4 linked regions of the Homo sapiens genome follow. The protein of the gene in region 3 purifies or fractionates together with the protein of the main gene of each other region. This does not show direct contact. Each region holds a gene or a part of one and is shown on either strand. Other genes may lie near its edges. The genes, in order: DEGS1, SCCPDH, CPLX2 and ANKRD13C.

Region 1 (7,487 bases), on a different chromosome or scaffold from region 3:
ACTCTTCTATGAATTACAGTAGTCAATACCATTCAATCTCAACTGTTATCACTATTGAAATGGCCTCAAAAATAAACTGCCCTTTCAAAAATCAAGCAGATGGAAAAGGAAAAATCCATATTGATTTCAAAAGTACAGCTGCCCTCATCTGAAAACTACTTCATCTTAAATTTCCTAATATGATCATGGCTGGCTGCGATTCACCACAGCTTCCAACAGCCGACTGGAGAGCGTTTTTCCAGAATAACTAGTATGTTTGCTTCAAGACAAATTATTTGACAAGGTTAAGGAAAAGATGTGAAAGCTAGATAATCCATTAAGAATCTTTTTTTAAAACTTCAAGGCATTTTATTTATACTTCTTTTTTTTTTTTTTGAGACAGTCTCGCTCTGTCGCCCAGGCTAGTGTGCAGTGGTGCAATCTCAGCTCACTGCAACCTCCGCCTCCCGGGTTCAAGCTGTTTTCTGCCTCAGCTTCCCAAGTAGCTGGGATTACAAGCACCCACCGCCATGCCCAGCTAATTTTTGTATTTTTAGTAGAGACGGGGTTTCACCATCTTGGCCAGGCTGGTCGTGAACTCCTGACCTTGTGATCCACCCACCTCGGCCTCCCAAAGTGCTGGAATTACAGGCGTGAGCCACCATGCCTGGCTATACTTCTTAGCTTACTTTTTTATTACGCGTATATATTAAGAACTTTTAAAAGTCCAAATTAAAGAAGCATGCCTAGACATCATTAAAATAGCTATCAATGCCCATGACAATCCTGTAGCTCAAATAGTTTACTTTAGAATGTCAAAATTGATTTTGTAATAGTCAGGACAGGATAAACAGTCGCTATATTAAGACCATGTACGTGTCCCTAGACCTAGTTCTTTCCCTACGTCTGTTTTTATAAATGCTGGTGATAAACCAGGTCTGATTAATATATAATCATTTTGTGTGATTATGTAACGGCTATAATTCTAGGTTATCTTTGGTCAACCTTAAGAAAAATGGCAGTATATGTAATGACTTTTGCAAATGATCAGTGCTAATTTGCAGACTTTTGTTTAAAGAGGGTTTAAACAAAATAAGAAAATTTCATGATTACCAGTTGCTATTAAATGAATTGTAACTTTTTTTAAAAAAAAAGAATGTCCAAGCCAGGTGTGGTGCTCATGCCTGTAATCCCAGCACTTTGGGAAGCCAAGAAGGGCAGATCACTTAAGGTCAGGAGTTCAAGACCAGCCTGGCCAACATGGTGAAACCCCGTCTCTAGTAAAAATACAAAAAGTTGCTGGACGTGGTGGCACACACCTGTAATCCCAGCTACTCGGGAGGGTGAGGCAGGAGAATCGCTTGAACCCAGGAGGCAGAGGTTGCAGTGAGCCAAGATCTTGACACTGCACTCCAGCCTGGGCAACAGAGCGCAACTCCATCTCAGAAAAAAAAAATGGTATATCCAGATTCACATTTTTTTTCAAACTCTGCATTTTTCTTTCTTTCTTTTATTTTTTAATGTTTTTGAGACAAAGCCTCACTCTGTCACACAGGCTAGAGTGCAGTGCCACAATCTCAGCTCATTTCTCAGCTCATTGAAGCCTCGACCTCCTGGGCTCAAGCAATCTTCCCACCTCAGCCTCAGCAATAGGTGGGACCACAAACATGGGCCACCACGCCCAGTTAAATTTTTTTTTTTTTTTTTTGAGACGGAGTCTTGCTCTGTCGCCCAGTCTGGAGTGCAGTGGTGCGATCTCGGCTCACTGCAAGCTCCGCCTCCCGGTTTCATGCCATTCTCCTTCCTCAGCCCCCCAAGTAGCTGGGGCTACAGGCGCCCCCCCCACCATGCCTGGCTAATTTTTTTTGTATTTTTAGTAGAGATGGGGTTTCACCGTGTTAGCCAGGATGGTCTGGATCTCCTGACCTTGGAGACCGCCTTGGCCTCCCAAAGTGCTGGGATTACAGGCATGAGCCACCATACCCGGCATAATTTTTGTATTTTTTATAGAGGTGGGTTTTTGCCATGTTGCCCAGGCTTGTCCCGAACCCCTGCCCTCAAGCGATCCCCCTACCTCGGCCTCCCAAAGTGCTCAGACTACAGACGTAAGCCTCCGCACACCTTTTGGACTGGTGTGCCAGTTCACACATGCCTGTGATAGCAACTGCGTTCTGAACTGCAGGGATACATTTACTTGTCAGCACCTGAAAACTTCCTCCTGAGTTGAGTCCAATTATCAGCTTCATGTGCCATCTGCCAATCCAGATGAAACTTGGCAAATACAAAGCTGTCCTTTTCCAGGTGACACTCCCCACCTTCTTTTTCCTCCACCATTTCATTAACAACTAAAAAGCTCCTGCATGATCAGACCTGTGTATCTATCCATCATCAAATCCCACTCCTTTTTCGAGACTGGGACCCTCTGGAGGCTGACCCAGCCACGCATTTGCTAGCATGCCCTGCAGACATGACCCTCGCTGGGCTCTGATCAGCCTTCAGGCCTCCACTCCAGGTGTCACTGTTCTGTCTCCCCTCTGCTCTCACAGCCTTCTCTGCTAGATGTCTCAGCCGTGCTGGCCCTCTCTATTTCAGAAGTGAATGTACTGAGAGGGTCTTAGGGACTTATTAATAATGCTCCTGGGGTCGGATGTAGTAGCTCATGCCTGTGATCCCAATACTTTGAGATCACTTGAGCCCAAGCGTTTGAGACCAGCCTGGGCAACAAGGTGAGGCCCCATCTCTATCAAAAATTCAAAAAAGTAGCCAAGCATGGTGGTGCACGCCTGTGATCCCAGCTCCTCGGGAGACTGGGGTGGGAGGATGGCTTAAGCTCAGGTCAAGACTGAAGTGAGACATGAGGCCACCACTGCACTCCAGCCTGGGCAACAGAGCAGGACTCTGTCTCAAAAAAAACAAAACCCACTATAACCATAATACTATTATCACACTTAAGAAATTCATAATTCCTTAATATCATCACATATCCAATTGATATCTGAGTTCAATTATTTCATGTCAATGTTTTTAAACTATTTCAATCAGAATCTAAATGAGGTCAACACGTTGCAATTGGTTGGTATGTCTTTTAAACTCCTTTTAATCTACAGGTTTCTCTTTTTTTGCCTTGAGTTTCATTTATTAGAGAACCCAGACATTGTCCCATATAGTCTCCCAGAGTTGGATCTTGCTAGTTTCATCCCCACGGCCTAGTTTAACACATTCCTCTGTCCTTTCTATTTTCTTTTTTTTTTCTTGAGAGGGAGTCTCCGTCTGTCCCCCAGGCTGGAGTGCAGTGGCTCCGTCTCAGCTCACTGCAACCTCTGCCTCCCAGTTCGAGCGATTCCCCTGCCTCAGCCTCCTGAGTAGCTGGGATTACAGGCGCCTGCCACTACGCCCAGCTAATTTTTTTATATTTTTAGTAGAGACGGGGGTTTCACCATCCTGATCAGGCTGGTCTCGAACTCCCGACCTCAGGTGATGGACCCGCCTCTGCCTCACAGAGTGCAAGGATTACAGACGTGAGCCACCGCACCCGGCCAAATGTCCTTTCTATTTTCTATAAATTAACAGTCAGATCTAGGGGCTCGATCAGATTTGTGTGTGTGTGTGTGCCGTGTGCGCGTGCACAGCATGTTCTTTGACTAGGAGGCACACCTGCTTTGGTTATCTTCTTTTTGTAATCTTTAAGTTGCTCTTTGATGTAGACGTGGTAACTAATGTTGAAACAAAATTAGTTTCGTTTCAAAACCTTTCTTTCAGGAAGAGGTTGTGGTTGATTACTTCTGCGACAGGTAGATGCAAGGTTGAGCAATCATCTCTTAACAGAAGTGGTCACACTAGAATAATTCAAGCACAACAACAAATCCCACATCATCACCCCCTCTTAATAATGGTGTTTTCTTTTTACTTGATTAGCTTTTAATTGTCACGCACTCTGCATTTTTTCCCTGAGGTATTATTTCCAGAAGGCAGCGAAATATGACTCAATGGCTAATTTGCTTTTTAAAAATTAAACAAAACTTAGGCCAGCTGCCATTTAAGAAGGGCTCCGGGGCCTCCAGACTCGGTGTGACCGTAGCCGTGCCCGGTGCTCCCCTCGCGGAGGCGTTAGGGCGGCAGGTTTATCTCACTTGAGACCATTCCTTCCTTTTTCATCTTCTCCGGGCTCCGGCGCAGCAGGCCGCAGGGGCGGGCACTCGCAAGAACGCGGCATCCTGGATGGTGGCCGAGTCACCGAAGCTCAGAACCCCGCGTCCCAGAATCGCTGAGAGCCGGCCCCGCACGGGGGCCTGGGAGCGCCACGCGCCCTCCACCCAGAGAGGCAGGCGGGCGGGCCGGGGGGGGCGGGGCCTCGGGACTCCGCCCACGCCTCCGTCTCCTCCGCGCTCCGCCACAGCCGGCCGACACCACACCAGCCGGGGAGCCGCCGCCGCCGCCGCCACCTCTGAGCAGCCGGCTGGGAGCGAGAGCCGACAGCTAGTCTGCAAGCCACCGCTGTCGCCATGGGGAGCCGCGTCTCGCGGGAAGACTTCGAGTGGGTCTACACCGACCAGCCGCACGCCGACCGGCGCCGGGAGATCCTGGGTGAGGGCCAGCGGGCGCCCCGTTATGTGCGTGCGTGGCCTCCCGGCGCCGGGGCGCGCTCTCCCCTCGCGGGCCCTGCGCGGTCGTGGGCGCCGGAGGCCCGTTAGCAGCCTGCTCCCCGTCGCGTCCCGTCGCCGCTCGGGCCGCCAGCCCGCGGGTCAGCGCGGGAGAGGCTGGGCGAGGAGCGGGGGGAGGGACGGGTCCTCGGAGCCGCGCAGCTCCGACCCTTCCGCGAAGAGGCGCAGGCGCGTCCCCGAGCGCGGGAGTCCCCGCCAGGCCCACGCCGGCCGGTTGGGGCGAAGGGTGTCCCCGGCTGTGCCAGCCTTGAGTAGATCTTTTCGCTAGAAGATTCCTGTGCCCTCAGGTGGGCGCCCTTTCCTCTCACCACTCCCTCTCCTCCGGAGCGGGCCGAGGTGAGCGGGTGCCGGCCTTGGGGCTGCCTGAGTGCTAGGCAGGGTGTGGTCCTGGGCATCCTTGGGCCTACCAGCGAGCCCTGCTCAGGGTGTCGGGCGCCGGCGGGCAGTACTGGCGGGGGCGGCCGCAGTCCCGGCCTTGGGCCCGTTAAGGGGGCCGGCGTCCCTCCATATGCCCCCCGGGGCTTCTCGGACTTGATGGGCCCTGGTCGGTTCACGCCGCTTGTCCCATTGATCCTCACGACAAGCCTGGGACGTAAGAACGGCGGATTCGTAGGCATTTTTCATCCATCTCGGTTTTGTGGATGAAAAGACTGAAAATGGAAGACTTGCCAAATAAGGAAAATATGTGGCGTGGCCTGCTGGTCCCCTGACAGCTAATTGAGAGGCCTTAACTCTCCAGAGGATTCGGGCCTTCTGTGTTACATAGAGAATGCTCATCTCTCCCAGGCTACTCCTAATATGCTAGGGATTGTGTGGAATGCTTTACAAACATTACCCAATTTCATCCTCTTGGTAATTCTACTTGGTTGGTATTATCGCTGTTTTAAAAAATGAAATAAGAACGCGTGACTAAATGCTAGGGGGATTCTAATGCGCATTCGGTTGCCTCTTCCAGAGCACGTGTTTGTTTTTTGTTTGTTTGTTTTTTGAGACTGCACGTGTTTGTTTTTTGTTTGTTTGTTTGTTTGTTTTTTGAGACTGAGTCTCACTCTGTTGCTCATGCTGGAGTGCAGTGGCGCGATCTCCACTCGCTGCAACCTCTGCCTCCTGGGTTCAAGCGATTCTTCTGTCTCAGCCTCCCGAGTAGCTGGGATTACAGGTTCCCACCACTACGCCTGGCTAATGTTTGTATCTTTTTTAGTTAGAGACGGGGTTTCACCATGTTGGCCAGGCTTATCTCGAACTCCTGACCTCAGGTGATCCGCCCGCCTTGGCCTCCCGAAGTTTTGGGATTACAGGCGTGAACCACCGTGCCCGGCCAGAGCACGAGCTTTTTAACCTCTGTTGAGGAAACGGGGACCGGTCACGGTAGCTCAGGCCTGTAATCCTAGCACTTCGGGAGGCTGAGGCGGGAGGATCGCTTCAGCCCAGAAGTTTGAGACCATCCTGAGTAACATAGTGAGAGCCCCCCGTTTACACACACACACACACACACACACACACACACACACTTTTTTTAAATTGAGGAAACGGTGAGTTGAACATGAGCAATTATTCCTTATATATAGTATTTCCTTAGTTTTTCTTCTCAACATTCATTTGCCCAGTGAAAAGAAAAAGCAAGTAGCTGGGACCACAAGCGCACACCACCATGCCTGGTTGATTTTTCTATTTTTTGTAGAGATGGGTTTCTCCGTGTTGCCCAGGCTGGTCTTGAACTCCTGGGCTCAAGCAATCTGTCCGCTTTGGCCTCCCAAAGTGCTGGGATTTTAAAGGCGTAAGCCACTGCACCCGGTAACTTTGGGTTCTTGAATTCCCTTCCTCCTCTTCTTCCTCCTCCCCTACACTCCATTAGAGAAAGGGTCTTGCTTTGTTGCCCAAGCTGGAGTGCGGTGGTTGTTCACAGGCATGATGATCACTGCAGCCTGGGCTCCAGTGGTCCGCATACCTCAGCCTGCCAGTAGCAATTTGTTTGGCACATCACTTACACATACTTGATATGAGATAGCATGATACTTTTTTGAGACGGAGCCGCACTCTGTCACCCAGGCTGGAGTGCAGTGGCCCAGTCTCGGCTCACTGCAACCTCTCCCTCCTGGGTTCAAGCAGTTCTGCCTGCCCCAGTCTCCCGAGTACCTGGGATTACAGACGCCCGCCACCATACCTGGCTAAGTTTTTCTATTTTTATTTTTAGTAGAGACAGGGTTTTGCCACATTGGCCAGGCTGGTCTCAGATGATGCGCCTGCCATGGCCTCCCAAAGTCCTGGGATTACAGGCGTGAGCCACCCTGCCAGGCCACATATGATATATTTTATCAATGCCTTATCTACATGTTACATAGGAATAATCTAGCGTCCTACCTGTGTAAAAACCAACTCTGGAATACTGAAACTGAGCTACTTAATATTCTGAAAATCAGGACGGGTGTGGTGGCTTTTTTTTGCCTGTAATCCGAGCACTTTGAGAAGCTGAGGCAAGAAGATCGCTTGAGGCCAGTTCAGAACAGCCCCATCTGCACGAGAAATTAAAAAATTAGCTAGGCGTGCATGCCTGTCCCGCTACTCAGAAGGCTGAGGCGAGAGGAACACTTGAACTCAGGAGTTCGAGGCCAACCTGGGCAACATGGCAAAACCCCATCTCTACCAAAAAAAAAAAAATTTAATTAGCGGGACATGGTGGCATGTGCCTGTGGTCCCAGCTACACAGAAGGCTGAGGTGGGAGGATTGCTTGAGCTGGGGAGGTAGAGGCTGCAGTGAGCCGTGATTGCCCCACCGCGTTCCAGCCTGGGCAACAGAGTGAGACTGTCTCAAGAAAAAGAGATGAAGGAAGTGAGAAGGTGCTGATT
Region 2 (8,267 bases), on a different chromosome or scaffold from region 3:
TGCCTACAATAGTGCATTTCACATGTGGTAAGCATCAATAAATATTTATTCAATAAATGAGTCGTTTTTTAGTCTTCTTTTTGTGCATTTAAAAAATATATTTACCCAGTAGTACAAGAATATAATTTATAAATAAAAAATATACTAGGGAGACACACTCAAACATTTTTTACCGAAGGGGTATATAGTAAAAAGGAAAGAAAATTCTGACAATCACAGATGTAACCAATCAACAAGCCAGCACACATGCCCTAAGGAGAACGTCATGGAGAGCCTGTCACTCACTCTCTCAGGAGACTTTGGTCATCTCCAGCTGCTCCTCGCAAGAAGAAAAAACTCCCCATATGGGGTTAAGGCCTTCAACCAACAATTCTGTCCTCTGTCCTTATGTTCCTCTGGAATATTTTGCTAGAAATGAATGGATTGTTTGTTCTGATACAAAGAAGGGTTGATTACTTACTGGTCCTACGCAATTGAGGACAACTGTTGCCTGTTTAGCCATTTCATCAAGCGAGGCTGGATTAGCAATATCACAGATGATGATTCCAACTTCAGATGACAGTGTTGGTCTTCCTAAAATAAGAAACAAATGAAGGAAAGTAAATCCCAGTAGAGGATTATATCTTCCTTATCTTCTTTTTACAGTAATCAGTGACAGCAAATTACTAAATACACTGATATGCTGAAAGCTAGCTCTCCTGCTTAGACAAAAGATAAAACTGTTTTTAATCAGGTAATACAAAAGGAAAAAATTATGAGGAAAACTGAGTTAACACTAAGAGTTACTAAAAAACTGACCTTTTAAAAAAAATCGAATCAAAGCGTTGTGTAAATAACAACCCTGTGTAACATGACAATTTCACAATCAAGTTTAAATGCTGAGCAGATAACTATCCAGACTTCCTCTCCAACAAGAAATTTATGTCATAAAATAGTTTCTTGGCCAGGGGCAGTGGCTCAGCACTTTGGAAGGTCAAGGTGCAAGGATCTCTTGACCTCAGGAGTTCCAGACCAGCTTGGGCAACATAGCAAGACCTTGTCTCTACTAAAAAAAAAAAAAAAATTATCTGACATGGTGGCATAGCCTGTAGTACCAGCTACTCAGGAGGCTGAGGCGGTAGAATCACTTAGACACAGAGGTCAAGGCTGCAGTGAGCTGTGATCACGCCACTGTACTCCAGCCTGGGTGGCAGAATGAGAACTTGTCTTTAAAAAAATAAAGTTTCTCATCAACCACTAAACAATTACTATGATCCAATTGTAGGTGATGGAGAGTTTCGGACTGACTGTTAACATCAAAACCATCAGGGCTGGGTGCAGTGGCTCACGCCTGTAATCCCAGCACTTTGGAAAGCCGAGAAGGGTGGATCACGAGGTCAGCAGATCGAGACCATCCTCACTAACACGGTGAAACCCCGTCTCTACTAAAAAAATTAGCAGGGCGTGGTGGCGGGCGCCTCTAGTCCCAGCTACTCAGGAGGCTGAGGCAGGAGAATGGCAAACAAACAAACAAAAAACAAAAAATTAGAACTCTGAGGTGAAAAGCACACGCTATATAAACACACACAGGCTCATAAGAAAATAATTGGAATTAACTGGCTCAACTAAGTGATGCAGGTTTCAATAGGTGAAGGTATATCCCCCCACAATGAAACTTGATTTGGGCATTATATATGATAAGTGACTAGGCTGTACCGGTACGATCTTGCTGAGCCGAAAAAAGAAATGGAAGCATATATTTTCATAGTAAAATTACTTCTGTTGGAAAAATAACGACCAAAAAGCTCTTTGGTCAGAATTACGTGTTGGTAGTGTCAGCACCAAAAGCTGTAGGAGAGTCCAGCCTACGTGGTGTCTTCTGTACATAACCACGAACAAAAGCACTCCGAGCAGGGCATTGTATGAAAGTAGATTAAACAGAAAGAATGTAGTATTTCCAGAACTCTAATGGGTGTCTGTATAAGGGAAATCTACGGGAGTTAATAGCCAAATTTAAAGGCTACGGAGTCGTAAGTCAGATGTCTCCCCAGCCATGAAGGCAGCAGGATCCGTGTGTCTGTCTCCTCTCTGTCCCATCCTGCACCCCAGACTCGGGACAGGTCTTAGCATGGACAACGTCACTCAATAAATATATGCTCCTTCAATGCTTAGAGAATCAATAAATATATGCTACCTGAATGCTTAGATTATCAATAAATATATGCTACCTGAATGCTTAGATTATCAATAAATACATGCTACCTGAATGCTTAGAGAATACGTAAGCGTCTAAACCAGAAATACACACTTTTTATTCTCTGAAGAGGAAGACTGCTGGAGTATTCTTACACACAAAACAAGAAACTAAAACAGAATAGCCACAAAGACACTGTCAGTACAACTCGTAAGCTTGCTCTCCCGTCCTCAAAACACGAGGCAAAGGGAGACTCCGATCTCCAAGAGACCAAAGCCCTCCTCTCCTCTCCGACCAAACATCTAGAAACCCGCAGATTCAACAGGTGCCCCCGCTGCGGGGCAGGATGAAGCAGAGAGAGGGACAACTCAAGTTCTTGACCATTTCGCCAGGGGAGCTCCCCAAACTGAGGCAGAAATGCAAAAAGCGGGAAAGAGGAGAAGGAAAGAAAAAAAAATGTGTGTGTATATTATACACGCACGCGCACACACACATATAGTTAAGGAGGTGGGACAAAGCTATGGCAGTATTTGAAACATCTCTCCCTCTCCTCTTCTTGTCCTCACGCAGGGCTCGGGGACACGTAGGGCGCATCCCTGCGGGAGAAACGCTCGTTTGGGGCGATGCGGGGTCCCCGGCCCAGCCGCCCGCGCAGCCCCGTCCCGCCCCGCCGCTGTACCCAGCTTCAGGGCCGCCTTCTCCAGCACCCGCTGCAGCTTCTCCCGGGAGCGGCCCGCCACGGCCCAGGGCAGGCGGGAGCTCCGCTCCGGGTCCACCTGCTCCCGGGCCACCTCCTCGGTCACGAACTGGCCGGTGAAGCCAGACGCGCCGAACACCACCAGGTGGAAAGGCCTCTGCTCGGTCGCCATGACGAGTCCACAGCGAGCCCAGGCCCCGGGGCGGGTGGAGTCCACGGCGCCTGCGCCTCAGGCAGCGACCCCAGTACCCGGCGCAGCAACGGCCGCCGTCGCCGCAGCCAGCGCGCCGGGCTCCCTTCACCCCGCGCGCGCCGCCGCGCCAGGGCCGCGCCCACGCCCACGCCGCCTCGCGCGGGAGCCGCGGGTGAGCGGCTTGCTTGGGAGGCTTCCGACGGGAGGTTTCCTAGGGCGGTGGCCCTGGGGGCGAGTCCGCTTCCAAGCCTGGCAGGCGCGGACGGCGGCCCCTAATTCCGTGCGGCGGTTTGTTCTGCAGGGCTCTGGCCGCCCCGGGCAGCGCATCTTCTAGCCCTGCTGGAAGCTGGAGGCGGCAGCCGGTTGTCCTTGTTGCACGTGGGGGTGGAGCAAAGAGTGCGAGAAAATCTGCGGATGGCCTCGGGGATGGCCCACCCCGAGAACCCTTGAGCTTGCTTGCTTTCTTCCTTTCTTTCTTCCCTTTTTTCCCTTTCTTTTCTCTTTTCTGTTTTTGAGATGGAGTCTCACTCTGTCGCCCAGGCTGCAGCGCAGTGGCGCGATCTCGATTTACTGCAACCTTCGCCTCCTGGGTTCAAGCGATTCTGCCTCAGCCTCCCGAGTAGCTGGGATTACAGGGGAGCGCCCCCACGCCCTGCTAATTTTTGTGTTTTTAGTAGAGATGGGTTTTCACCTTGTTGGCCAGGCTGGTCTCGAACTCCTGACCTCAGGTGATCCACCCACCTCGGCCTCCCAAAGGGTCGGGATTACACGCATGAGCCACTGCACCCAGCCCATTCCTGATTTTTAAAAACTCTCATTAAAATAGGAATAAATGAATGCTTTTAAAAATTTTGAAATATATGTCTTGCAAAAAAGGTACAGCCAATAACAAATATGTACCCTCAACACAGCTTAAGAAAAATATTCCAGATAGCGAGGCTTCCAGGTATTCATTCCTGAACACATTTCCTTTTGCGTCCCCAAGACGGCCACTTGCCTGAATTTAGTGTTTATTATTCCTATTCCTATCTTTCTGCTTGTTATATATGTATGTATTTATAAATATTATAGTACCGTTTTGCATATTTTGAATATTTTGTAAATGTCAATCCTGCAGCTTTCTTATTTGGTCATGATGTCGTGAACTTATTCCCAAATGATTCAGAATAAAAAAAAATGTCTGTGATACGTGTGTGGAGAGAGGGAGAGAGAGAGAAATACACCAAATTCTACAATGCTTTTGTACAATGTTGTATAGTGCTTTTGTGCAATATAATACAAAGAATGCTACAATAAAATTCTTGTACCTTTCTCCTAAAGCACCTGTGCGAAAGTGTATTGAATATGTGTCAGGAATGAAAATGGTTGGTGCTAGAATATCCATATTTGAGTTATCTCACTGCTCTTTAAAGCACATGCACTAATTTTCGCTCTCAGCGGGATACAAGAATCCTCTTGCTTTACGTGCTTGTCAGCACTTGGTATTCTCAGACTTCATGCTTGTCCATCTGGTGGGTGTAAAGTAGTAAGCATTCAAGTATTTATTAAACACTTAACTATATACTGGGCACTAGGAATAAAGTACTGGGGATATGGCAACAAATAAAGCCCCTGCCCTCAAGAAGTTTACATTCTAGTGGAGTAAACAGTCACTAAAAAATAATCTTACAGAGCCAGGTACAGTGGCATGCACTTTTAGTCCCAGCTACTTGGGAGGCTGAGGCAGGAGGATTGCTTGAACCTAGGAGTTGGAGGTTATAGTGAGCTACACTCCAGCCTGGGTGACAAAGTGAGATATTGTCTCTAAAAAGAAAATAAAAACAAAAGAAAACAAAAAACCCTAAAAAAACAGAATATATATATATATATATATATATATATATATATATATATATATATTTTGTTTTTTGGGAAGCATGCTTGCTATGGTTTGGATGTTTGGCCCCCCCAAATCACATGTTGAAATGTAATCCCCAGCATTGGAGGTGGGGCCTGGTGGGAGATGTTTGGGTCATGGGGGTGGATCCCTCATGAATGGCTTGGTGCCATCCCCAGGATAATGAGTATGTTCTCTCTGCATAAGTTCATACAAGAGCTGGTAGTTGAAAGAGCACTCATCCTTCTCTCTCTTGGTCTCTCTCTCACCATGTGATACATTGGCTCCATTTCACCTTCTGCCACGATTGGAAGCTTCCTGAGGCCTCACCAGAAGCAGATGCTGGCACTACACTTGATGTACTTCCTGCAGAACCATGAGCCAAAATATAAACTTTTTTCTTTATAAATTAACCAGCCTCAGGCATTCCTTTAAAGCAACGCAAAAATGGACTAACATAATGGTCATTGCAGCATTGCTTTGTAATAACAAAAAGTAGAAATAACTGAAATGTCCTTTATCAGAGGAATTATTAAATAAATTATGGTGTCCTATTCATTCAATAGGAACTGTGCAGCTATAAAGAATGAAGAATGACTATTCAGGTGGTTCTAGGTAAAAAACACACAACAACAACAAAAACAAAAGAATGAAGTAGGCTGGGCACAGTGGCTCACGCCTGTAATCCCAGCAGTTTGGGAAGCCAAGGCAGGAGGATCACTTGAGTCCAGAAGTTTGAGACCAGCCTAGGCAATGTAGCAAGACCCCATTTCTTAAAAAAAAAAAAAAAAAAAAAAAAAATTTTTTTTTTTAATTAGCTGGGTGTGGTGATGTGCATCTGTAGTCCTAGCTACCTGGGAGGCTGAGGTGGGAAGATTGCTTGAGCCCAGGAGTTCGAGGTTACAGTAAATCATGATCACACTACTGCACTGCAGCCTGGGCAACAGAGCAAGGCTATGTTTCTAAAAAAAAAAAAACAAAACAAAACTGTGTATAGTGACACGGAAAATCTTCCAAATTTCCTAACATTACAAGAGTATATTTAAGACAAAACAATGTATGTATATGCACACAAAATGTTAAGAATACATGATAAATCTTTTTTTTATTATACTTTAAGTTTTAGGGTACATGTGCACAACGTGCAGGTTAGTTACATATGTATACATGTGCCATGTTGGTGTGCTGCACCCATTAACTCATCATTTAACATTAGGTATATCTCCTAATGCTATCCCTCCCCCTTCCTCCCACCCCACAACAGGCCCCGGTGTATGATGTTCCCCTTCCTGTGTCCATGTGTTCTCATTGTTCAATTCCCACCTATGAGTGAGAACACGTGGTGTTTGGTTTTTTGTCCTTGTGATAGTTTGCTGAGAATGATGGTTTCCAGTTTCATCCGTGTCCCTACAAAGCACATGAACTCATCATCTTTTTATGGCTGCACAGTATTCCATGGTGTATATATGCCACATTTTCTTAATCCAGTCTAACATTGTTGGACATTTGGCTTGGTTCCAAGAATTGCTATTGTGAATAGTATTGGGGAACCTGCCCCGATATTCACGTAGGTTCTTTTCTATTTTCCCTAAGTGTCGGCCAGCTTGAGAAATAAAGGGACAGAGTACAAAAGAGAGAAATTTTAAAGCCAGGCGTCTGGGGGAGACATCACATGTCAGTAGGTTCTGTGATGCCCCACAAGCCGCAAAAACAAGCAAGTTTTTATTAGGGATTTTCAAAAGGGGAGGGAGTGTGTGAATAGGTGTGGGTCACAGACATCAAGTACTTTACAAGGTAATAGAACATCACAAGGCAAATGGAGGCAGGGCGAGATCACAGGACCACAGGACCGAGGCAAAATTAAAATTGCTAATGAAGTTTCGGGCACCACTGTCATTGATAACATCTTATCAGGAGACAGGGTTTTGAGATCAACTGGTCTGACCAAAATTTATTAGGCGGGAATTTCCTCTTCCTAATAAGCCTTGGAGCCCTATGGGAGACTAGGGTCTATTTCATCCCCTGCAGTCTCAACCATAAAAGACAGGTGCACCTGGGGGGGGGCTGTTTATAGGCCTATACCTCCAGGTGCGTATTCTCTTTCCCAGGGATGTTCCTTGCTGAGAAAAAGAATTCAGTGTTATTTCTCCCATTTGCTTTTGAAAGAAGAGAAATATGGCTCTGTTCTGCCCGGCTCACCGGCACTCAGAATTTAAGGTTATCTCTCTTATTCCCTGAACAATTGCTGTTATCCTGTTGTTTTTTCAAGGTGTCCACATTTCATATTGCTCAAACACACATGCTGTACAATTTGTGCAGTTAATGCAATTATTACAGGGTCCTGAGGTGACATACATCCTCCTCAGCTGACAGGATTAAGAGATTAAAGTAAAGACAGGCATAGGAAATCACAAGGGTATTGACTGGGGAAGTGATAAGTGTCCATGAAATCTTCACAACTTATGTTTAGAGATTGCAGTAAAGATAGGCATAAGAAATTATAAAAGTATTAATTCAGGGAACTAATAAATGTCCATGAAATCTTCACAATCCACGTTCTTCTGCCATGGCTTCAGCCAGTCCCTCCATTTAGGGTCCCTGACTTCCCGCAACAGAATAGTGCCACAATAAACATACGTGTGCATGTGTCTTTATAGCAGCATGATTTATAATCCTTTGGGTATATACCCAGTAATGGGATGGCTGGGTCAAATGGTATTTCTAGTTCTAGATCCCTGAGGAATGGCCACACTGACTTCCACAATGGTTGAACTAGTTTACAGTCCCACCAACAGTGTAAAAGTGTTCCTATTTCTCCACATCCTCTCCAGCACCTGTTGTTTCCTGACTTTTTAATGATTGCCATTCTAACTGGTGTGAGATGGTATCTCATTGTGGTTTTGATTTGCATTTCTCTGATGGCCAGTGATGATGAGCATTTTTTCATGTGTTTTTTGGCTGCATAAATGTCTTCTTTTGAGATGTGTCTGTTCATGTCCTTCGCCCACTTTTTGATAGGGTTGTTTGTTTTTTTCTTGTAAATTTGTTTGAGTTCATTGTAGATTCTGGTTATTAGCCCTTTGTCAGATGAGTAGGTTGCGAAAATTTTCTCCCATTTTGTAGGTTGCCTGTTCACTCTGATGGTAGTTTCTTTTGCTGTGCAGAAGCTCTTTAGTTTAATTAGATCCCATTTGTCAATTTTGTCTTTTGTTGCCATTGCTTTTCGTGTTTTGGACATGAAGTCCTTGCCCACGCCTATGTCCTGAATGGTATTGCCTAGGTTTTCTTCTAGGGTTTTTATGGCTTTAGGTCTAACATTTAAGTCTTT
Region 3 (7,000 bases):
CCCAAACATGCACACAGCAGCCTTCAAATGTCTCTGAATTCTCTCAAACACACGCTTCTACAACCCATCACATACCTAACACATACCCATCACTCCCAATACACACACTGTTTTGAAAACACATTCTTACACAAGCTAACATATACAGCCTCTAAACACGAGATGGATAGCACACACATATGACACAATTTCAACCCAAATACACCACCTCAATCAAGCACACATACACAAGGCTAACATACACAATCTGTAACACATAGATATGATGACTGCAACACACACAATCTCAAGACACACACACGCTCCAGCCCTACACATATGCATATGATCTCTGAACACACAATCCCTGTTGCAGTCTCTGCCACGCATTATCATGCATGCATGGATACAGTTTCCTCCCTCATGTGACCCCTCTTCCCTCACCATCCCCACACAACTGACTGAGCAGAAAGCTTTGATAATTTGAGTGGGGGACAAATGCCAGTCCCAGACGTCCCAGAGGAGAGTTTGTCCTTGGCCAATGAGATGAATGGATGGACGCCTTCTGTCAAGTGGGAATTGGCTTCTCACCAAAGGCTTGGGGCTTTGGCCAGGAAGCGTCCTCCTGGGGACCGTGGGGCCCTGGAAGCGCATGGACAGGACGGGGTGGGGAGAGGGGTGGATAGGAATGGGGGCAGCTTGGCCACACCAATGGAGGTGTTCCCCATGGCATAGACCATCGCTACCCGATGGCTCCAAGTGTTTTCTGGGGGCCTGGCAGCCCCTTGACTGAGCAAGCTGGGCCCAGCCTGGCAGTGGGGGCCCAGGACCTAAGTGGGGTGGGGGTGAGGAACAAGGGGCGTCCCTACCTGGGGTTCCTCCACAAATGAGCTAAAGTCCACAAAGGATCCATTTGAAGGGACCAGCTTGGCAGGGGCCATGTCTCTCCAGGTGGGGGCTGGGGAAGGGGGTGCCCCTGGGCTGGGTGTCACCAAGGAGATGGAAGAAGAAGAGCCCCAGCCTCCCACCCAGATCCCAGCCTGGCCAGAGCCAGGGCCTCTCAGCCTGGGCCTTCCCGGGACAGGCTTCCCCTGACTCCCTTCCTCAGAGCCAGGCCACTCAGTGCCCCTGCCCTGACCTGGGGGCCCACTGAGGGTTAGAGGCCAAAGGTCAGCATGCTGGGCAGGGCTGGAATGTGTCATTACTTTGGCTGGCTGGGGACAGTGGTCCTCCTGGCAGTGGGGAGCAGGGAGGAATGTATGGGGGTCACCACACTAGCACGACCTTAGGCTTCCTGAGGGGCCCCCCTGACCCCTGCTGGGGAAAGACTGTCCTCCCTTTTTCAAGCTACTTGGGAGTGGGGTGCAGGTGGATACCCTGGGATGAAGGGAGGTGTGAGGGAGAGCTGAGGGGGAGAAGCCCCTGGCCAGGGAAGAGGGGCAGAGGCCAACTGAGGTTTTCCCCTTCAGAATTGAGACTTAACCTAATAAAAAGAAAAGAAAGAACCAAAAAGAAGTAGTAACAGGTGGAGTAGGCTGGGGCAGGAGGCCTGGTTACTTCTTGAACATGTCCTGCAGCGGCCCGGGCAGGTATTTGAGCACCGTGTCCAGGATGCTCTCCTCTTCCTCCTCCTCCTCGTCCCCGCAGCCCGCAGGGATGGCCTTCTTGGGCCGGGTCAGGCTCCCCTCGCAGGGCTGCTCCAGGGCTGCTTTCTCCTCTGCTTCCTTCTCCTCCTTCTTCTTCAGCCCATACTGGGGAGGGGGAGGGCAGAGACGCGCATGAAGCGGGGTGGGCAAGGAGACAGCAGGAGTCTCATGATCATGCAGCACTGGCTGAGGTGGCCAGGAGTGCCTCCCAAGCCTCAGTCCTGTCATTAGTAAAGTGGGGATAAGGGTGTCTTCCCTGTAGGATGGTGCCTGGTCCTCAGTGGGAGAGACCATACGTGGGGTTTCCTTTAAAATTAACACCTGCCCATCAGAACTTCCTGCTGTGTTGAAACCCCCAAAGATCTGAACACATGGCGTTTGCCCATATATTTTGAGCCAAATTTTGGTGACGAATCTGACTTGAACCAATGGAAGACTACTTCTAGCCTTTATTTATTGCACGCACTAACAGACATGCACTGGACTGTCTGGAGTAGGGTGGCAGCCCCAGACCCGCTGGGAGTGACAGCTGACAGCACAAAGTGCTTAGGACACTGTGGTATTTTTCGAACATTCCCAAATTCAGAACTGCACTCATTTTTGGTCCCAAAGATCTGCAGTACGAAATGGTGGACCGTAGGGTCCACCCTCTTGGAGTACCTACTACGCGCATTCTCTTATTTAATCCCCAAAAGGATCCCTTGAGGGAGGTGACCTTGTGATACCCGTTTTGCTGATGAGAAGAGTGAGGCTCAGAACTAGGGCGAAGGTGAGAGCTGGGATCCAGGGGAGCCCCAGCAGGGGCTTTAGCTGGACCGGTTTTACCCGCTTGTGGCCCTCCCCAGGACGGGCGGGCGGGCGGAGCTGACCTTATCTCGGATCTGCTGCCGGACCTTCTCCCGCTCCGCCTCCATGCGCGCGTGCTTGGCCTTACGCTCCTCCTCCTGCTGCCGCAGCGCCTCCTGCCGCTCCTCCTCCTTTTTCTGCGCGTCGGGGTCCTTCTCCTCCTCTCCCCCCAGCATCTTCCCCATGTCCTTTGTGGCCCCTACGAGGAAGGGGTGGGAAGGAGAGGGCGGGGTCAGCTAGGGGTCAGGGCTGGGGAGAGAGGGGCCGGGTGGGCCGAGGCCACCTCCCACAAGGGTGGGACCGGCTGAGGACACGCGGAGGGGCGCTGGACCTCACCTCCAAGGGCCTGCTTCATGACGAAGTCCATGCCGCCGGCTCTGGTTAGCGTGCCTTAGCCCACGGCAGAATTTGCATGCAGCGCTCCTGGCTGGCCTGGCTTGGGAAGATGTGACAACCTGCAGAAGAGAATTGGGAGTCAGATGGGAGAGGCCTCTGCACAGGCAGGGCGGGGGAGCTAGGCAGACAGCAGCCTCACCCTGGTTCAGACACCAGGCACCCATCGCTCTGAGGTCAAGACCCAATGCCCTGCTGGAGGAGAAAGGAGATGGAAGAGAGCGATTTACTGGGCAGACACGTAGGTGCTGCCAAATAGCTTTTTGAAAGCGGTTTGGTCCCTATTTTAAAGCCTTCATCTTGACCCTATTGTTCAGATTTGATTGAAGCCAGGAGCATTGGAAAGAGCCTGGAACTTGGAGTCAGGCAGATCTGGTTTCCAACGCCACCGTCATTTCCTTATTTGCCATGGGACCTTCAGCAAGGCCCTAACCTGCTCGAGTCCCCAGTTTCCTCCTCTCTAAGAGAGAAATGGCAATGCCACCTTTCCCCGGCTCCGGCGGAGATTGGAGGGGGCCCAGCCTGGGCCACTGGATCAGCCCATCAAAAGACCAGCCGGTGTTACTGCCCCAGCCAATCGGAGGCAGCTGAGCAAATGAGAACAGCCAGCTTGGATAAACAGATCCTGACTTTTGAAATTAGACAAATGGAAAATACGTTATTTTTATTGTAATGTACGTGTAATTTTTATGTTTTATAGCTTAATATCGATTTTTATTTTGAATTTCACGTGGGAGTGTTGGAGACATTATAATCTTCTGGGGGCTTAGGGCTTTTAAACTACCTAGCACGGGCCTTGCAGGCACTCGGCAGACATTAGCACCCTACTCCTCTTCCTAAATCACCGGCTTTCAGTTTTTATTATATTTTTTATTATGTTTTTGCCTCAGAAGGGTTCTCCAAATAAAATCTTAATGGGATTCTCAATATGCAAAATATGTAAAAGTGGAACTCTTCCAGTGGAGGTGGTGGGGGAGGAAGAGCCTTCCCCCTTGGCCTCCTTACCATCTTCCCCCTACATCCCTGAGAAGCTGAACCCTAGTGCTCTAACTTGAGATTTTCTTTGTATTTTAACCATTCAGTTCCACTGTTCTTTAACAGACACAGATCTCTTTTCAAGTGTAGAGGGGACATCCGTGAGCTATCCAAAGTGTGAAGTAGCTTCATGGTAAGCTGAGGCCAGGCCTGCTCCCCAAGGCCTTTTGTCCCACACAGCCTTGCAAGGAAGAAAAAGGGTTCCTGGGAAAGGGTGGCAGATGTTGCAACCTTGTTGGGTTCAAGGCTGGATATTGCAGCCTGGCTGAGTTCAGGGTCACTGGTTGTTCTTTGATAGATTTTCTTCATTTCTCTCAAGATGAGAAGTCATATCGGTAGACTGAGATTATTTCATGATATGGGGCCCAAGAGCTTATCTACGTGATCAGACCATCTCATCTGATAGGTTGTTTTGGGAAGAGAAAGTCATGATGTGTAGGAAAAAAAAAAAAAAAAAGCAAAACACAAAACAGCCCAGGGGCTTTGGCATCAGACACACCTGGTTCAAAATCCAGGCAGCTATACTTACTGGCTGGGGGTCCCTGGGCAAGCTTCAGTTTGCTCCCTGCAAAATGGGGGAGTATTAAGGTTGCCCTTGAATGGACGTTTGAAGGAGAATGAATGATACCGGTCAAGTGCCTGGGGTGTTGCAGGAACTCATAAAATGTCAGCCGTTGCCGACTACATATTTGTGGAACAAGCCAAAAAGGAACAGGCTTTCCATGCTTTCTCAGAAATGCAAGAGAACCCACCCTCCTAACCCCGAATTCTGAGTTTGCAGGTTGCTCAGCTCAGTCAAGATGTTTTCGTTCGATTTAATACATTGTGAAAAAACTTCATTTCTAAGAACAGGAAATGAACAATTTAATAATCAAGTGATTTCAGAAACTCTTGGGTTCCTACTCTGTGTTTACATAGAGCTCAAGGAATTACCAGGTGGCAGTGGGAGATGCAGGGCTCTAATTTGAGATGTTCCAAATTGGTAGGCAGGGCACCCGGGCTTTAGTTGCAGCCTCATCCCTAACTTGCTGGGTGATTCTGACACGTCTCTCTCCTGGATCAGATGATCTTCCAGGCCCTTTCTCCCATGCCTCTGTTGAAGCAGTCTGCAGCATTTGAACTGCTGACAACCCCACTGTACCCTCAAACCTCCTTCTCTCTTGGTTCTGTGACTCAGTTCTTTCCTATCCCTGCTTCCCCTTACTGTTTCCTCTCCTCTCCTCTTTTCTTCTCTTCCTTTGCCTTTTCTGACTCCTCTTCTTCCTCCTGTCTCTTCCCCATAACTCTGACCTCAGCCCCTGCCTCTTTTTACTTTCTAATCTTTCCCTGGGAGAACTCATCCATTCTAGGGGTTTTAATGACCACTGACACTGATGACACCTAGACCTCTATATTCACTCATCCAGCAAGTATTAATTGAGCACCTACTATATGCCAGTCAATGTGTTAGGCACTGGGGATTTATAGGAAACAGGACAGACAAAGCCTTGCCTTCATGCAGATTACATTCTGAGGTATGTATGTGTGTATGTGAGTGTGGGGGTATATGCACACATGCGTAGGAAAATAAGCAATAAATAAGTAAAAAAACACATTTACCTTCTCCTGGATACCCTTTCCTGGATGTCTGTGGGCACCCCTCAAACTTAACATGCCATTTCTGTATCACCAAACTATCACCTTCTCCGGCCACCTCTGCTTGCCAGCATGCATTCATCAGACATTGTTTACCACTGCCACCCCTCCACCAGTTTGCAAAGTACCTCTACTCACCACTGAGTCTTCTCAATGCTTACATCCCTGTGGCTCTAAGTAGCTCTTCTTCAGCCTGCTGGGATTCTTTATCTGAAATTCCCGAGTCTGCCCAAAAATCCTGCTGCCTGATCCCAGCATGGACCTCTGAGCTGTTAAGCAGTCTCCTGTTCACTCTGTCTACACTCTCCCAACCAATTCTCCTTTTCTTAAGGCCCAAAATGCTACTGCCTCTTCCTTCTCAGCAGGTGACTTTCCCTCCACTTCACGGGCGAAAGTATAAGGGGTCTGAGCTCTGAGGTTAGGCATGCCTGACTCAGATCTTGAATCTGCCACTTTTTAAGCTGTGCAATAGTGAGTAATTGACCTAACCTCATTGATACTTGATCTTCTCTATAAAATGAGAATTATAATGGCACTTTGAAATTTTAGAAATACTCTATGGGATGTGTTTGCACATGCTGGGTGCTCAGTAAATGGTTGTAATAATCAAAACAATTAATGTCAGTGAGTGGGAGCTCCTGTAACCTCCCCTCCTTCTAGCTCCTGAGGAAGAAGCCCTCTCCTGGCTGAAGCCAATTCATCTACCTGTGCCCTGGATTCCCTCTCTTTGTACCTCACCACTCCCTCTTCCTCACATCTTCCATCCCTCTCCATATGTTGCTTTTATTCCCTCCCTTCTCTAACTCCTTCCCTAAATTCTGCGTTTCCCTTAATCCCACCCCTCTCACTTTGTGATGAAGTGATCTCCACATGGTATCTCCACATCTTCACCTCCCAGTCAAGCCCTACCTCTCTGTGAGACCAGAGCTCTGCTGCCTCTGCAGGAGCCCTGAAACTGCGGTAATCAGTCGCCAGAGGCTTTCCCATTGCCAGATTCAAGAGGGTCTTCACGGCCGTCATCCTCCTCCATCCCTCTGCTGAATCACATGCTGCTGCTGACTCCCTCCCCCCACCTTTTCCAGCTTTCTGGAATCTCCTCCTGAATTCCATGACACAGCACTCTTGTGGTCTTCATCCTACTTCTCAGATAGGTCTTCTCTCTCTTCTTTGCTGACTCCTTTCCTTTCCTTTAAAGTGAAGATGGTCTCCAAACAAACTCTCCCCTCCTGCCTCTCCTGCCCCTCTGTCTCCCTTGGGAATCTCGTCCACCCCTATTGGTTTAGTGCACTTCTTTAGCCACAGATACCTCCCTCTCTCTGCCTCCCCTCCCCTACACCTGCACATTTAACTCTCTGCTGGATGTTGTCACATGGATAATCTCAAATTCTGTCTGTCCAAAGATCAGTCTCATCCTGGCTTTCCCCACACACCCATCTTTTTCTCTAGTATGCCTTGTCCCAATCACC
Region 4 (7,488 bases), on a different chromosome or scaffold from region 3:
TCCCGGGTTCAAGCGATTCTCCTGCCTCAGCCTTCCGAGTAGCTGGGATTACAGGTATGCACCACCACGCCCGGGTAATTTTTGTATTTTTAGTAGAGACAGGTTTTCACCGTGTTGGCCAGGCTGGTCTCGAACTCCTGACCTCGTGATCCGCCGGCCTCGGCCTCCCAAAGTGCTGGGATTACATGCATAAGCCACCACGCCTAGCCTCAAAATTTTCCGAATATATATTTGAATAGTCTTATATAACCTCTTGCTGACAGATACAATGGGAATTATGGAAATAATTTACACTAATGGGGAAACTTCCCCCGAGATTTGATTTAACAATTCTACAGTGTTGCAGAAATGTAAGGTTATTTAATCTTACTCATATGTATAGAATACAAGAAAAAAATATTAAGTAAATGAGAAGTCTAAAGTAGGGAGACAAACAGGTTCAGGGAAATAGAGTCAAGTTTATCCCTTTTTGTAGTCTTCTTATCGAATAAAGCACTAGAAATATAATGGAATCATGTGAAAACATTGTTCCCTGTATAATAACAAGACAGCTAGCAATAAGAGTCCTTCCTGACACAGAATTCAAATGAGCTCAGCTTTCTTTCCTGAATTCTCCAAGGACACATTCTGACTCTAACCATCCATTATAATTCCTTATCTGGATTCAAGGAAGAGAGAAAAAAACTACTTGGAGACAATTCTGTAAGCTACTTCTTGCATTTCCATCACGTTATTTTGGAAATATTAAATACCGAACAATGCTTAAAGTTTAAAAATCTAGATTTGCACATACTGTTTTATCTTCCCGAAAAAGCCATCCTGTCTGGGCACGCGTGAAAGAAATTGATTTTGTTGATAAAGTTGCAGAGTAAATATCACTGCTCATTAAAATATCCACCTCTTCTTCTGTTTCCATCTCTGATTCCTGGGATGTGAGCAAAAGTTAAATATAAAAATCTAGGTTTTTCAAAAGTTCTTAGTACTACATATGAAAATATCAACAATTATAATGGTACCAATTTTTAAAGACAAAAAGGATAGTTTCTAAATAATGTGAAGTGTTACTTACTCTAAAAAGAATTAGATGTTTAAATTGTACATATTAATATCTTCTCTAAGTTAGCATTATGACTAATTATGAATCTATAAAAGCAGGACACATGAAATACGGTACTATTATCCTGTTATAGATATGTAATGGAAGCAGTACTAGATTACCCATTATAAAACTGTATAGTCCATAGAGCAATTTTTAAAAACAACTTTAAGAATTAACTTGACAGATCTGAGAAAAAAACCCAGATAAAGGATATTTTTCTTTCAATACAGATTAATCTTACTTTAGTTCTTCTTAATGCAAAGATCCACCACTGTCATTTGAGCCTTTCTTTCCCAATAAATTGTAAGTGGAAGAAAGGAAGAACTGAAGGGAGGGATAGAAGAAGGGAAGCAGCAGAGAGGGAAGGAAGGAAAAGAAGCAAGAAAGGATCTTTTCTGTATTCCTTATAAAATGGAAAGGAATCCATAAATATCAACCGTAATTTCTAAACTTAATGAGTAGTCATGCTTCAGGTTTTATCCTGTACATATTCCCTAGTGCTGGTATATAATAATTGAGCAATAATTATTTTTTATATGAGAAAAAAGGAAAGTTTTGTGCTTGCTTCAGGGACAGAAGACTAAATGATCAAGTACAGAAGAGTAAGTGAGCAGGTATAAGATGAGATTCTATTCCATAATAGGCCAAGAAAGATACCCTAACTAATATTTAAGACGTTATAAGGAAGAAAAAAGGCAAAACCTAGGGAGTTGTCTGGAGAATAATAACAGTCCCTAGGGTTTACAATAGTTAGAGCCTTCATTCTCCAAACCTCCTTATTTCTAGGTTCCCAAGAGGCCCATTTTCTATTCTTCACCATCTAACTTTAACCTACATAGAGTCCCTTTCTGATTTTTTTTTTTTTTTTTTTTTTTTGAGACAGAGTCCCGCTTTGTCGCCCAGGCTGGAGTGCAGTGGCACAATCTCAGCTCACTGCAAGCTCCTCCTCCCGGGTTCACACCATTCTCCTGCCTCAGCCTCCTGAGTAGCTGGGACTACAGGCACCCGCCCCCATGCCCGGCTAATTTTTTTATTTTTAGTAGAGACGGGGTTTCACCATGTTAGCCAGGATGGTCTCGATCTCCTGACCTCGTGATCCGCCCGCCTCGGCCTCCCAAAGCGCTGGGATTACAGGCATGAGCCACCGTGCCCAGCCCATATAGTCCCTTCCTGAATTTCCAAAAACAATACCATTGGCGACCGGGCTAGGTGGCTCATGCCTGTAATCCCAGCACTTTGGGAGGCCAAGGCAGGTGGATCACGAGGTCAGAAGACAGAAACCATTCTGGCTAACATGGTGAAACCCCGTCTCTACTAAAAAAAAAAAATTAGCCGGGCATGGTGGCACGCGCCTGTAGTCCCAGCTACTCGGGAGGCTAAGGCAGGAGAATCACTTGAACCCGGGAGGTGGAGGTTGCGGTGAGCTGAGATCAATCACGCCACTGCACTCCAGCCTGGAGACAGAGAGAGACTCCATCTCAAAAAAAAAAAAAAACAAAGAACAAACAAACAAAAAAATAGCAATGGCTTGGGCCTGGGACAGTACCATTTCCTCTACCCCTACAAGTAAAGAATGCAAAATCTTGGTGTTACTGCTAAAGCCATAATAGGTGAAAATGTATTCCTGGTAACCCAAATTAATTCTGAACACAATATTCTTTAAAAAAAAGTTAGGTTGCAGTAGTTAAACAGAACTGTTAAACACTATACTTCAAATATATTATGAATCAAGTAGAATTTTATATATTAGCTTGGAAACTGAACACTGTATAACCCATTGTCTATGAGCAAATTTGCCTTACATTTCAAACATCCTATTTTCAATAAACTTTTGGAACAGAATTCTTATATAAATCAGAGACTATCTCTTAACCACATCACTGAAAAAGATCTGCTGTTTTAATTAATTACATTGCTTCAACATTTAATGAAGTTATTACTTATACATACATACATATTAGGATAAACAACAAGTATTCTCTGCCCTAAGGAATACTGCTCAAAATTTATCTTTCCTGTATTGTAGGCATTATAAAATACATAATACATATATGTATGTATACATACATACCTTAATACTAGTACATACATACCTTAATACCTTAAAACTGGTACCCTTAATACCAGTTCTTTGGTAATACTATGACATCCACAAATACTTATGGACTACTAGCCTTAACTTCTAGCTTCTCTTTCAAGACCCTATTTCCAATTCACTTATTGCCTAGTTGGCTATCCTGTTGTCATTTCATAAGTAAGAGGTCAAATTATTTAATAAATATCTGAGAGGCTCACATATGAGTAAGCAAACTATAATCAGCTGCCTGTTTTTATGAATAAAATGATAATGGAATATACTCATTTATTTACATATTGTCTGTGGCTGCTTTTAACAACAGCAGAGTTGAGTAGTTGTGACAGAGGCCATATGGCCCACAAATATATTTTAATATCTAAAAATATTTATTATCTCTTCCTTCACAGAAAGAGTTTACCAACCTATAGCGTAGAATGTACTGATGCTGTATTAGATAACAGGGAATACAACAAAAAGAACCCCACGCCCTTGAGGAGCTTAGACCAATAGAAGGGAAAAAAGCCATGTCAGTAAATGTAACATTAGAAGCTTTATGGTTCCAGATTTAATAGGAACATAAGGACAACAAAAGTCATTTGGTGGGAGAGAAAGTAACACCAAGTGCATGCCCTACAGGTGTGAGGGTGCAAAAAGAAAAGCATTCCAGGAAGTGGAAAGAACATGAACAAAGGAATAAAGGCCCAAATAGCCTGGCACATCTGACAAACTGCCAAGAGTGCAGTATGAGGGTATCTAAAATAGTAAGGTAAGAAAAAGGCTAGAAAGGTGAGCAAAACTCAGGTGACAAAAGGAACCATGCCGTGCTAAGGAGATTAGATTTCACTCTTTAGGTAATGGGGAACTTTTTAAGTATCTCTAAGTAACTAAGGTTTCATAAATGTGTTTCTAAAGTTTAATGTATCTCCAACATGTGGGATAATTTAGAAGCAGATGAGAAGGGAGCCAGGAAGATCATTTATAAGACTTTCCAATGGTCCAGTTGAGAAATAATGAATGTTTAAATTACAGTAGTGACAGTGTGAATAAAAGAGGAATAATAATGAGACATTAAGGAGAAAGAAATGACCAGATATGTGCTCTGATGAGAAAACACAGAGTACAAGAAAAGATATCAAAAATAACTCCTAGGTTTCTAACTGAATAGAGAATGACATCATTCTTCAAAAGAGGAAAAACAGGAAAAAGAGCAGGTTTGGAGGAAAAGTAGCAAGGTTAGTTTTAAATAAGGTGAATTTTGAGGTACCTGGGAGACACACATGATATCCATTAGGCATTTAAACAGATAAGCCTCTACTCAGAACTGTATGGACACAAACATATATTTGTAAATCATCAACCTATAGGACTGTGGGAATGGAAGGGATTATTCTGGCAGTTTGTAAAAATGAGAACCACATCAAGGGCATATCAATGGTTTTTTAACACAAAGATATGGCATGAGAGAAGGAAAATCATGTCGTACTTGAAGAGGGAAAGGACAGAGAAAGGAAAGGTAGCCAAAGAGTTAGGAAAAGTAAGACTGCAGACAGAGCCAAAAGAAGTATTCATATTAAGGAGATAAAATAAAGATGGTCAACAACATTAAAAGAAGGTAAGATAAAAAGATAATACATGGTAAAGGTCCAGCACAGGTTCAACAAATGAAAACTATAAATGAGAATGAAGAGAAGTTGGAGTTCATTGATCTAGGAGATAATCAGTTGAATTCTCAGCAGGCTCAATGGACCGGTCAAGATGGAGACCAGAGGATAGAAATATAAAAAATGAAAATAGGCCAGGCGCAGTGGCTCACGCCTGTAATCCCAGCTCTTTGGGAGGCCGAGGTGGGTGCATCATTTGAGGTCAGGAGTTTGAGACCAACCTAGCCAACATGGTGAAACCAAGCCTCTACTAAAAATACAAAAATTAGCCGGGCTTGGTGGCGGGCGCCTGTAGTCTCAGCTACCCTGAAGGCTGAGGCTGAAGAATTGCTTGAACCTGGGAGGCGGAGGTTGCAGTGAGCCTAGATCACGCCACTGCATTTCAGCCTGGGTGACAGAGCGAGACTCCAGTCTCAAAAAAAAGAAAAAGAAAAAAGAAAAGAAAGCTAGTGGTCAGGAAACTATAGCTTTAGGAACAAACCATCTCAATTATACCTTAAGCTTTTAAGCAAATTATACTGAGGTTTTGCTAAAAACCTATACTTTTTTTTTAATGATTTAAAGGAATATTGATAAGACAACATGCTCACCTCATGATGTATTCGCTGATAAACTTTTTGTTCATTGTCTAATACTACAAAAGATTCAGAGGGCGCCGCATCCCCATTGAAAATGAAGCTTAGATCCCCTCGTTGGCACTTCATGTCAGTAAAGTCTATGAGAGTTGTGTCAAGCCTGTGAAACATGGGTAGATGATAAACTCTGACAAATATAATTTTGATAAAACTTCACTAATAATTAAATAAGCTGTTCCTTTTAAACTCAAACCAAGATGCTAATACCATATTGCAAAGTCAAATTTATAGATAAAAACAAATTTATAGATAAAAACTAAATTTAAAATATTCTATTAAAAAACAAAACTACTTAAAGATATAATCCATTTTAGCTATATTTCACTTTTCTGAATATACATATATATTTTCTGAATATATATACACACACATATATATATATATATACACATACACACACACATATATATATACACACACATATTTCATTGACCCAGAAAAAAAGATGTTTCCCCATATTTGGGGTATTTCCCTTTCTGCTCCCTTGTTTCCTACCATTTCCCTTACTGTAGCTACTCAATAAAAGTGAACGGGGAAGGAAGAAAAGGAACACAGACCTGTCTGACATTATTCGATCCCTTTAAGACCAGGTTGCTAGCTCAGCAGAGTATTTAAGACCAGACAGCAATGGATGGACCACATTCTTGGAATTGAGAACTCCTCTTCTGATATACACCCGTAACCTTATGCCTAACCATCTGATACCAAACCTTGCTTTATCCTTCAACTTGATAAACCATTTAAATTCTTGGCCTTTGTATTTGACTTCTCAGATTTGGACTAATACTCTCTTTCCCAACCAATATCTCCACACCCTGGAAACCTTACAGATCATTCTGTATCTAATACTCATGGATTCACACATTTGTGTGTTTACTGTTCTCTTTGGTAACCTGGACCTGTCATGGTCTAGCCTAATGCGCTGGTCTCAAACAGTATTCCACAAAGCACTACTTGCCGAAATTAGGAAAAATACTGAAAATAAAAAGTTTACAATACACTGACGTGCTTCAGTCTTGCACATGGCTTTATAAATCACCAGATCAGGATCACCCCAGCTAATGGCTGCTCAAAACACACAGTCCTAAAGCCAAGAAACTGGTTGGCCCTGCTGTCAAAGGATGCTGATCACATCCCCAGGAAGCTCCTTTAAGGCTCCGTGAAAAATCCACCCTGGCTACTGAATTTCTAATGCAACTGTAAGAATTCATTACTCTGTAGGTTTTTCAGTTCTCATCACAGACAAGGCAAAGTGAGTTGGTATTCTTGGTTTCCCTAGACAGGAAAAACAGAAATAAAACATGCCTCACATGCTGCATGAAAATAATAACTAGGGTTACATAGAATTTATCATCAAAATTAATAAATCTAAGAATGAAAGTGACACTACTGACAATTCTGCCAGGAAAACAGGGGTGAGCCAGAGCAAAGAGGGAAGTATGGTTGCCTTATGTATCAAGAAGCCCTAAAAAAGTAACTCATCAACTCACACAGGGGCGGCGGGGGGGCGGGGGGCTGCCTGTTGCTTTATAGCTGAATTCTAGCTTTTAGTCCACTCCCAGAAGCTAGAATTCAGCTTTACTATTAAATAACACCTATCATTGCTTGAGCATGTGTCCTAAAAGAAAATAGTATTGGCCGGGCGCGGTGGCTCACGCCTGTAATCCCAGCACTTTGGGAGGCCAAGGCGGGCGGATCACGAGGTCAGGAGATCGAGACCATCCCGGCTAAAACGGTGAAACCCCGTCTCTACTAAAAATACAAAAAATTAGCCGGGCGTAGTGGCGGGCGCCTGTAGTCCCAGCTACTTGGGAGGCTGAGGCGGGAGAATGGCGTGAACCCGGGAGGCGGAGCTTGCAGTGAGCCGAGATCCCGCCACTGCACTCCAGCCTGGGCGACAGAGCGAGACTCCGTCTCAAAAAAAAAAAAAAAAAAAAAAAAAAAAAAGAAAATAGTATTAAAAGGGACTCTTCCCCTATCTCTATAAGATGTGGGCTCCTGATAATACCAAAAAGG

Evidence for each region.
Region 1: the proteins of CPLX2 (region 3) and DEGS1 purify together in Homo sapiens (affinity purification with mass spectrometry; 2 studies listed by BioGRID and IntAct, with this or other methods). This does not show direct contact.
Region 2: the proteins of CPLX2 (region 3) and SCCPDH purify together in Homo sapiens (affinity purification with mass spectrometry; 2 studies listed by BioGRID and IntAct, with this or other methods). This does not show direct contact.
Region 4: the proteins of CPLX2 (region 3) and ANKRD13C purify together in Homo sapiens (affinity purification with mass spectrometry; 2 studies listed by BioGRID and IntAct, with this or other methods). This does not show direct contact.

The regions. Positions count from the first base shown.
Region 1 is NC_000001.11:224,178,856-224,186,342, forward strand, and holds the start of DEGS1 (sphingolipid delta(4)-desaturase DES1), read left to right. Parts: upstream 1-4,384; 5' UTR 4,385-4,481; coding exon 4,482-4,563; intron 4,564-4,824; exon of another isoform or gene 4,825-4,976; intron 4,977-7,487. UniProt on the Homo sapiens protein: Has sphingolipid-delta-4-desaturase activity. Converts D-erythro-sphinganine to D-erythro-sphingosine (E-sphing-4-enine). Catalyzes the equilibrium isomerization of retinols.
Region 2 is NC_000001.11:246,719,198-246,727,464, reverse strand, and holds the start of SCCPDH (saccharopine dehydrogenase-like oxidoreductase), read right to left. Parts: upstream 3,057-8,267; 5' UTR 3,043-3,056; coding exon 2,853-3,042; intron 574-2,852; coding exon 461-573; intron 1-460.
Region 3 is NC_000005.10:175,874,578-175,881,577, reverse strand, and holds part of CPLX2 (complexin-2), read right to left. Parts: intron 2,927-7,000; 5' UTR 2,839-2,926; coding exon 2,808-2,838; intron 2,671-2,807; coding exon 2,495-2,670; intron 1,731-2,494; coding exon 1,533-1,730; 3' UTR 1-1,532. UniProt on the Homo sapiens protein: Negatively regulates the formation of synaptic vesicle clustering at active zone to the presynaptic membrane in postmitotic neurons.
Region 4 is NC_000001.11:70,295,337-70,302,824, forward strand, and holds part of ANKRD13C (ankyrin repeat domain-containing protein 13C), read right to left. Parts: intron 5,573-7,488; coding exon 5,428-5,572; intron 926-5,427; coding exon 794-925; intron 1-793. UniProt on the Homo sapiens protein: Acts as a molecular chaperone for G protein-coupled receptors, regulating their biogenesis and exit from the ER.